Linked DNA regions of Homo sapiens. The protein of the gene in region 1 interacts with the protein of each later gene in a pairwise test. Each region holds a gene or a part of one and is shown in the gene's direction. Other genes may lie near its edges.

The links.
Region 2: the proteins of SRRM4 (region 1) and SRRM1 interact in binary tests that used the Homo sapiens proteins (3 or more experiments, as listed by UniProt).

Annotation. Positions count from the first base shown.
Region 1 is NC_000012.12:118,987,004-118,992,470, forward strand, and holds part of SRRM4 (serine/arginine repetitive matrix protein 4), read left to right. Parts: intron 1-5,467. UniProt on the Homo sapiens protein: Splicing factor specifically required for neural cell differentiation.
Region 2 is NC_000001.11:24,653,290-24,657,854, forward strand, and holds part of SRRM1 (serine/arginine repetitive matrix protein 1), read left to right. Parts: intron 1-1,016; coding exon of another isoform or gene 1,017-1,054; intron 1,055-1,565; coding exon 1,566-1,840; intron 1,841-2,362; coding exon of another isoform or gene 2,363-2,374; exon of another isoform or gene 2,375-2,401; intron 2,402-4,565. UniProt on the Homo sapiens protein: Part of pre- and post-splicing multiprotein mRNP complexes. As a component of the minor spliceosome, involved in the splicing of U12-type introns in pre-mRNAs. Involved in numerous pre-mRNA processing events.

The DNA of each region.
Region 1 (5,467 bases):
AATTGCTTGTTCCTAAGACTTTCGCTGAAGTGTGAGAGAATATTTCTGAGGTGGAGGAAGTAGAATGATGAAGAGTTTGAGCTCTGAAGTCAAATCTATCCAGGCTCAAATCTTTCTTTGCTACGTGCAAGCTGCAGGACCCGCTAGTCACTTCACCTCTTTGTGCCTCAGCCTCCCCATCTGTGAAATACTCCTCTGTTGGGGTTGTAGTGAGGAGTGAATGAGATAATTTATATAAAGAGCATGGCACTGTGCCTGGTACAAACCCAGATCTCCATAAAGCAGATGCTCTTGTGTACTATGCCAGGGGCTACCCAACGAGATGCAGAGAGGGGGGATGCTAAAGCCCCTTACTACCTGGGCTGCGCTTGTTCAGTAGTGATGCTTGGGTTCTGTGGACTGGACTCCTGAGCAGCTCCAATGCTCTGTATTCACTTTTAAATGTGGCTTTGGTGCTCCCTAAAGAGCCACTGGAGATTGGTAGAGCTGTTTGAAACATTTGATGGACCTCAGGGGCACACTAATCAAAGGAAGTGTTTTATTTTATTGGTTGCAAATGCTTACGGGCTATGAGACTTGGCAAGCAGCTTGACCTTCTCAATCTCAGTTTTCTCATCCATAAAATGGGGCTAATAATAGCAGCTCCCTCCAAGAGCTGCTGTGAGGACTGGATGAGCTAATTTATGGAAAGTGCTACTTGGCACCCAGTCAGAGCTCCATCAGTGTTGGCTCTTGCTATTAATAATAAATGATAGGTTTTTTCGTTACTATTTGCCAGGCCCATTGGGGAGAAAAAAGTTGAATGTCCTCTAGTGAGGGCCTCAGAGTTTAGTAGAAAAGGTAGACACAACATAAGTACATATTTCATAAGGGAGACAGTCTTTTTAATTTTTAAAATTTGTTTTCACATAATAACTGTACATATTTGGGGGATACATAGTGGTGTTGTGATACATATAATGTACAGTGATCAGATCAGTGTAATTAACATATCCATCATCTTAAACATTTATAATTTCTTTTATTAGAAACATTCAGTATTTTTCTTCTAGCTATTTGAAACTGTAAAACATATTATTGTCTTAAGCATGATAATGTAGGGAGAAATAGAGACAGAGGAATGTAAAAAAAAAACAGCGAAGGGAGAGACCCTTAATGAAGCATGGAGTCCCTTGCTTATAGTCACACAGTTATTTTTAGTTATCCGATCTGCAAAATGGGGATGATTCTTCTATTTCATCAACGTTATCTACAAATACAAGGAATGATCAGAGAAAATCAGACCTTTGCCCCCAGCAGGGTCTCAAATACCATTTCTTTTAATAGGAGAGAAAGCAGGCTAAACTCTCTGAGGGGAACATTAACTGTGGGGGAATAGTCAACGCTAGTGGAGGGGAGCCGTGGAAGGGAGCTGCTCATATAATATACATTTTCCAGCTCAAGGATGCAGTCTCTGGCGTGGGCTATTAGGCTTCTTGTCCTTCATGGACCAGCTCTAGCTAATAGGAAATCTAGTCTGCATTCCATGAACAACCACCAGTGATGGGGGGATTATAGCGAGCCTGCAAATGTGGAAGATAAAATTAATCACAGGGGAATTAATACACAAAGTGGAAGAAGCTGCACGTTGGCTAAAAAAAAATTAGGTTGTACTTTCATTCATTTATTCAGTCATTCAACATTTTTATTGAACCACTACTCAACGTAACAGTGAATGAACACAGGAACTCCCTGTTCCCGTGGAGGAGAAAGACAATAAATGAAGAACCAAATAAATAAATGAGAGCTGGTGGTAATGCATTCTGTAAAGAACAATAAAGCCAAGGAAAGGAATAGAGGGTGAGGGAATGAGCTGCTTTGTTGGACAGCATGATCCCTGAGTGAAGGGAGAGGTGAGCTGTGAGGATAAGTGAGAGAAAAGTGTTTGAGGCAGAGGGAACAGCAAGTGCAAAGGCCCTGAGGTAGAAGGATGCTTGGTGTATTTGAGAAATAGCAAGGAGGTCAGTGTGGCTAGAGCAGAGTGAGTGAATGGGAGAGTGACAGAAGATGATTCCCAGGATGCAGGCAGAAAACAGATCAAGTGGGGCCTTGTAAGCCAGTTCAGGAAATTCCTAGGTCCTGGGCTGGGGGCAGGAGGTGGTCCCAGGAGGGTTCTTGCCTTCTCAAGCAGAGTTCCAGATCTGATCTGCTTCTGTTTGACTCCTCTTTCCTGACTCTGATGCAGCCAGTGATGACTTTGAACAGCAATATCAGAAGATTGGCTGGGTCCCTCCATGTGTTATGGACAAGCATGAAATTTACAGTCCCTTTGATTGTGAACAATCACATCAGGAAACTTTAAAGATGCTGTTTAGACTTCCAAATAGCAGTGATAGATTTTGTTCCCACGGTGCAAGGGTTTGGTCTCTCATATTCATGCATGCAAACCTAGACTATCCCTTGCACCCAGTAGCCCCCTCCACTGCACACTCTTGAAGCTACAGTCTGCTCTTTCTGTCTCTCTCCCTCTGTGTATCTCTCCCGGCACCTGTCCCCCCACACCTTCCAGCCCCCCACTCCATTTGAAATTTTGCTGAGGGAGCTCCCATATGCTACAGCCTCTGTGCGGAGCTCTGTGAAATAGAACACTGAATTAAGATGTCATAGAGACAAAGCCAAACCAAATACAGGAACAATGCCGAACCCTAAAACAGTCATTAAGTAATTCATGTCTACGTGTGTCTGTTCAAAACAAATATTAAGATCCTCTGGACGCAAATCTTTCTCATCCGGAGAATCCTCTGGTTGCTGGATTCCCAAAGCTTAGATGCCGCTGTCGGACAGCTTTGCTGAGTACAAATACCAACAGATCACTGTTCTCTGGCTTCGTTAAAAGTTAAGCTTAGGCAACTGAGCAGGAATTTAGAAGACAGTTGCCACTTCTGCAGAAAGAGAGGTGCCATTTGGGCCTGAAGCGTGCATCTTCATGGTGTGTGTGCACGCTCACTTGTGGTGGGAATGTGTGTGCTAAGAGCCTTGTGTTACTATGTGCCTTGCCCTGTGCTGAACACATTTCATCTCTTATCCAGTTCTGTACTTATAATAATTCCAGAAGAGAGGTGTCTTCAAGACCCTATTTTACAGATGAGAAAACAGAGGCTCTGAGAATAGAAATGATCTGCTCACAGACACATGGCTGGTAAGAGTCAGAATTGGAATGAGAACCCAGAGCTCTTAACCAACATGTTTATAGGATAAGACACTTTGCAGAGGAGGAAAAAATGGTATCACAGAGGGGAGGTAAGCCCTGGGAATCCAGCAACCAGGGGAGTCTCTAGATGAGAAACCTTTGCGTCCGGAGGTTCTTACTATTTGTTTTGAACAGACACACGTAGATGTGAATTGCTTAATGACTGTTTCAGGGTTCGGCATTGTCCTATTTGGTTCGGCTTTGTCTCTATGTCATCTTAATTCAGTGTGCCCATGATCACACGGTGTGTAAGTGATGAAAGCAGGAGATGAATTCAGGTCTGTCTGATTGCTAGTATATTCTTCTCTCCTGGCTGGACTTCCTGTCATTCTGGTTTGGGTTTTAAGGTTGGGGGTGTTTTTGTTTTGTTTTGCTCATCTTGTTTTATGTTCAATCAGTTTAGTAACTGCCATTGTTATAATCCCATCTCATACCACTTGCAGCAATACTGCTTTCCTCTTTCCTTGCCCCTCTTATCCATTATCCACATAGACCCAGAAGAACCTCTTTGAAAAGCACATCAGACCATGTAAGCCCTCTCTCCCTCCATCTAAAGCCCTCTATCACTTTCTCTTGTTTGTGTTTTTTTGGTTTGTTTTTGTTTTGAGATGGAGTCTCGCTCTGTCACCCAGGCTGGAGTGCAGTGGTGCGAACTCAGCTCACTGCAACCTCTGCCTCCCAGGCTCAAGGAATTCTCCTGCCTAAGCCTCCCAAGTACCCACCCCGCACCCAGCTAATTTTTGTATTTTTTTAGTAGAGACAGGGTTTCACCATTTTGGCCAGGCTGGTCTTGAACTCCTGACCTCAGGTGATCCACCCTCCTCGGCCTTCCAAAGTACTGGGATTACAGGTGTGAGCCACCATGCCTGGACCCATGTTTTTTTAAGTATACAGAGCCAGCTCCCTGCCATGGCCTCTAGCCTCTTCATGGTCCACTTCCTGCCCACCTCCCTGAGACCATTTCTAAAACACCACCTCTCACTTCCTCTGTTTAGTTGCATCTTATTCCTTTTAGTTACTCACATTTTCCAGGCTCCTTCCTGCCATGGAGCCTTTGCACATGCTGCTAGGAAAGCTCTTCCTCTCCCCTGGTGCCTGATTTATACCTACTCCACTTTCCAGAGCTCAGAGGAAATGCTGTTTCCTCGGGGATCCTTCCAGAATGCTGCAGACTAAGTCATACCCCTCATTACAGACATTACTTTCTTATCACTGTTTTCAACACATTTGTAATTATATATGGATTTGGGCGATCATTGGCTAAAGCATACCTCTCCTAACGGTTGAGGCCTCATGAGGAGAGGGACTGTGACTATGAGCTCCTTGTTGAACGAATCTCTTCCCCCAGATACGCAGCAGGGACCAAACACATGTTGGTAGAATGCATGAACTGTAGCACTTTCCCCTCATCGAATCACTTTCACACCTAATAGTCTGAACCATATGGAATTGCCAATATTCAAAACCAGTAATGTTATTTCCTCTGATTCATAGGAGAATTGTTTGAACCACTGGGGATGGGGACTATGCCTGTCTCATTCTTTGCGGTATCCCAGCACCTAGTACAGTGGCTCAAGGTTGGTCATCTTTAAATATTTGTTGAATAAATTGTTAATGAGGACAATACAACCATAAGCACACTGTACAGATGAGAAAACTCAGAGATCTACAGAGGTGTAGTATTAGATAGAGCTAACAGGACCTTAGGGATCACCCGATCTCATTTTACACGTGGAGGGCTGAGGGATAGGTTTGATAACGTGCTTAACATATTGGAACCATAGTGCGCATGTGTAATTTGTAAATAAATACACATATATTGGGGTTTTGTTCTCAGCATTTCTCACTGAGAGAGATATGAGATAAAAGAAACTTTGGGGTCCATTGATCTAATTCAGCTCCTCTTTTAGCAGAAAGAGACACTGAAGCCTGCAAAAAGAGAGAGATTTGCCTAAGGTCTGTAGTCTGCAGGTGAGCTCTGGGTTCAGAGAAGTGATGTTTGCCCAACGTCAGGGCTCTTGTTTGAACTTCTCTGCTGCAACCAGGTGAGCAGACACCAGTTCTCTCTGGTGACCCCACCCACGCTGTGAGACATGACATCCCGCCCCCTCAGGGTCTCCTGTGGCACCTGCTGCCCACCCACTCGTCTGGGTATCCTGACAAGATGTCCATCCGCACCCAGCCTGTGCCTAGCAGAGCAGGTGAGCAGCTCTGGGTGTTTCTGGAATCAGATTTCAG
Region 2 (4,565 bases), on another chromosome or scaffold:
CACCAAGAAATCATACTAAGTAAGAGAATTGGCCACCTTCTCTTTGGCTTTTAACTGGCTTCTGAAAAGTAGCTGATTATAGGGCCAGTAAGCTCCTTTTACCAGTATTAAAGTAATTCATTTGCTGTTATACTTTGAGAAAAGTATTTTTATGAATTTTTTATAAAATTCTCAGAAAATTCTCATTATAGAAGTAATGAAGCTTATAAGTAATTCAGACAGAAATAGCATAACTTGGAAGTTTTCCATAATCCGTGGGGGAATATATCTATATTCCATAGATATAATTGCTATTACTAGTTTAGTGTCTGGTTATTTTTCAAAACCCCAACTGTACCAGTGTTCTTTTTTTTACATCATTCTAAAATGAGCATAAGATAAAATATTTGAATCTTGGATATATCACTTTAAACAAAAATTAGTGGCTAAGTCTACCCAAAGTAGAGTCCTAGTGCACTGGTAGCAGTTTTTGTGCCTTCTTGCAATACGTTTCACCTGGCTTGGGAAGAAATGCCGATGATTAAGCTTCCAGTTATTTTGGACAGAATTTTTTGTTTGAGTCTTTTAAAGTTCTTTTCAGGGAACCAAATCAATTTGGAAATAAAGAGGGGAAAAATCAAGTAAGCTCTGTAAAGTTACTTTGTTTCTGCAGTCAGGTTTTTCAGAGTCCCATATTTTGAAAATTTTCTTTGGGGAGGGGTTGTTAAGATATATTGAACTATTACTACTGTTGCAAAGAATTGATGTGTTGTGCTCATAGAGGAAATTAGTGAGGTAAATGGTCAGTCAATTTTCAGGCATCACACTTTTCTAATTCCCTTTTAGGAGAAAAGTAATGCTGGTGCTTCCTAGTACAAGATTAGTGGAAACAGCTATTTCTTATACTGGAGTTTTGCAAACAGCATGTTTAAATTGTGCTTACTCAGCCATTTAGCAGTCAATATTTTACAGATTGTTTAAGATTCCCTTTCAGCCAGTTTTTATCTCACACTTAAGGTAGGGTTTCTTTTTTTCAGGTTCTCAGGAATTCTTCCGCCAAAGGTGAATTCTGCAGGTACACATAATTGCAACAGAACTTAACACAAATTTTGCCGCAGAATTCGAGAGGCCCCTGCTTCTAAGTTTATGTAGCTAAATGAATTCTTAGTTTTGCACATCTTTTTTAAAAATGCAACCTAAAGGTTTCTCAACATTGTGTTATTAAATGGAAAATACCTTGCCCCCAAATTTTATATGCAAACTCCAAAACACCAATACCATTCCTAAGGCAGAAGGACTAGTTAGTTATTTTATTATAGCATTCAACCTGACAAGTTTTATAACTGGAGAGAGAACACAGACAGAAGTATTTATCAGATTAAGTTGTTTATATTAATCTCAGAACTAGCTGTTTCCTGGCCTAGGTTATGGTTTTTTCCCCCATTCTTTTGGACTCATTTATGTGCTTAGCTACATAAACTCAAAAGTCGGATTAAAATAGCTGTATTTTTGTGTAAACTGTTCATACCTGTAAGGCCGTTCTTTATAAGTGTGCAATTAGTGAATATGAATACTTTATTCCACAGAAGAAGACGTTCGTCAGCATCCTTGTCTGGGAGTAGCTCATCATCCTCTTCATCTCGTTCACGGTCACCACCAAAGAAGCCTCCCAAGAGGACATCCAGCCCCCCTCGGAAAACTCGTAGGTTATCTCCTTCAGCAAGTCCTCCAAGGCGAAGGCACAGGCCATCACCTCCTGCAACTCCACCACCCAAAACTCGGCATTCCCCTACACCCCAGCAGTCAAACCGTACAAGAAAAAGTCGTGTTTCTGTGTCTCCAGGGAGAACTTCAGGTAAAGGTAAAAATCAAACACATATGAAACATGGTCTCTCTTTCTTTGGCTACAAAGCGTAGTCAGTTATTGCCCCCTGCTCACTCTCAAAGTATGAAATAGCTAGATAATATTTGTATCTAATACTCTCTGTAGGTTTACTTATAAGCCTACCTCTTTCCTGCTTTAAAATCTTGGGGCTTTTTTATGTGTAAAAGGGTTTTGTTTTTAGCAATGCCCTGTGGCATTGCGCAGGTGGAGAAATCTTTTACCAGCCGTGGGCTGTTTGAGTTGGGGTAACATATCAAAGTTTGCGTTGGCATGATAAGGGATCATTTTATTACTATGAGACCAGTTAACTTTTTTTTCTCCTGAAGATTTTTGGTTTGATATCTTAAATAAGAGGACTTCATATTCTCTTTTAGTTCTTTCTTGGTCGCATTGCGCTCCCAAGCAAAGGACATGGTGTCCTCTTAAAAGCTGATTTGTTTTTTTAATTTAGGTTCTAGGCAGGGTTCTTCTGAGTGTTGTCCTTGCTTTATTCTGCAGATTGATTTCTGAGGAATTTATGATCTGTGAACCTGCCAGGCAAGTAGAATGCTGTGTTAGTCTGAGTGAAGGTTGTGGTCTATTGGGGTTTGTTCTGTGAGCATTAAATACGCATGGAAAAAACTGTAGTGTCCATTTGAACCAGGCTCTCTGGAGCTTAGGGCTGGAATGATATACAGCCTAAAAGGTGAGTAGTAAGGGATGGGGAGGATCTTAAAAGCTGCTAAAGCAATTGAGTTTTAAGGAGCAATCTGTAGGTTAACACACGCTGGGGTTATTATGATCATATTGAAAATTTCAGGTTAGAGCCAGGTGTGGTGGCATGAGCCTGTGGTCCCAGCTACTCAGAAGGCTAAGGCAGGAAGATCACTTGATCCCAGAAGTTCAAGGCTGGCCTCAGCCCCATAGCGAGATCCTGACTCTTAAAAAAAGAGAGAGAAAAAATTTCAGGTTAGAAACAAAGAAATGGGGATGGGCAAAATTTTCATTATACATTTTAATGAGCTTGATGAGACCAGCATTGCTAATTATTCACCCTGTTGCCTTATCTCCCCACTCCCCAAGGCTGCAATGTGGTGATACCTAGAAAGGCAAATTTTGCTTTCCTTTTTTGTATCTGTGACAATGAGGCATAGATAAGCTGACAGAGTGAAAGGGTGACCAGCAGATTATGATAGTCTGTAAAAAGTAATGTTTTCTGAATTGTGACATTTTTATTGTAGTGATAGGTTCATTAAATAAGACATGGCCACTTTTGTTGGCCCCTTAGAGAAGCAGCTAGTGAAAGTAGAGAAGCCTGTAACTGTTCCAGGTTCAGTCCTCAGTTTGAGAGAGGGGCTTCGGGATCACTGTTTTCATAACCTCATGTACCATACTGCTTTTCAGCATTGGGAAAATTTCAGTCCATTTTCAGTTACCATGTCCAAATCTGATGCCCATGGCCCTGGCCTATTTTGTCTTTTCCTGTAAAGTTTGTACTTCTGAATATTTATTCTTTGTCTGGAGCCACAAAGCTCTCCAGGGAAAAAAACAAGTGTTTTTACCTGTTACTTTGCAAAAACACATCAAGTGATGATTTTTTTCTATTTATATCATATAGCCTAAGAGTTGCAAAAGTACCTGAACAGAGGGACCAATCCTTGTTAAAATAGGTTGATTGTTAAGAATTATTAGGTACTTTTAAAAAGCATCTGCACAGATGCTAATTTCTTGTGTTTTGGCATATACTTTTTGCAAACAAGACAAGAGTGGATATGTACATAGGAAAGAAGTAAGCCATGGTGAAAATAAGTATTTCTGTGGGTTTTGGGACAGGGCTTCCGTGTTCAAACAACCTACCCAAAGAGAGGCACTACAGGCAGTGTAGTCAGTCTCCCCTGTGACCACTGGAGCTGAATATTGGTTTGACCTACTTGGAAATAACCTCTCCCCACCACCCCGCTAAATAGAGCCAGCATCTCACTCTGTCACTCGGGCTGGAGTGCAGTGGCCCAGTCATAGCTCACTGCAGCCTCCAACCCCTGGGATTACAAGTGTGAGCCACCACACCCGGCCCAGACAACCTTTTATATTAAACTGATCCCAGCCCTCTGTGATGAAATTTCAGAGCTAGAAAAGACCTTAACAGTTGTCATCAAGAAACAGATTTTCAGGTTAGTTGACTTGGTCAAGGTCAACCAACTAGGAATAAAACTTGAGTTGTCATTCCCAGTTAAATAGTGAATACTTTTCACAACTTTCCTACCCCAGAACTCTTCTTTGATTGCTAAAGGTGAGAAATGGAGGGCAGGGTTGAAATTCTTTAGCTTCTCTATCTGGTAGTATGATTTCAGAAATTACTTTGCAGTTTCTGCTGCTTAGAACAGTAACATCATTGAAATGTAATAGATATTACAGTTAATATTTTCCCTAGTGGCCACTAATCAGGGCTTTAGGGCTCTGCTCTTGATAGTGGGCAAATGGAGTGGGAGGGAGGCAGGAAAAGTGTTTTGGGGAACTTACAGGTTAATTATTTGGAATACAGTATACAGTCATCTGAAGGGATCTTAGGGGAAACATTTGTAATTACTGACATTTCATAAATTGGCATTATCTTAGTACATAAAATAGTGCTTGAAATCAGTGGCACAGTCAGCGAAGTATGTTAACATGATCAATACTGGTGGTGACGGTGTGGTAATTTTGATTTATTTAGATTAGCTTG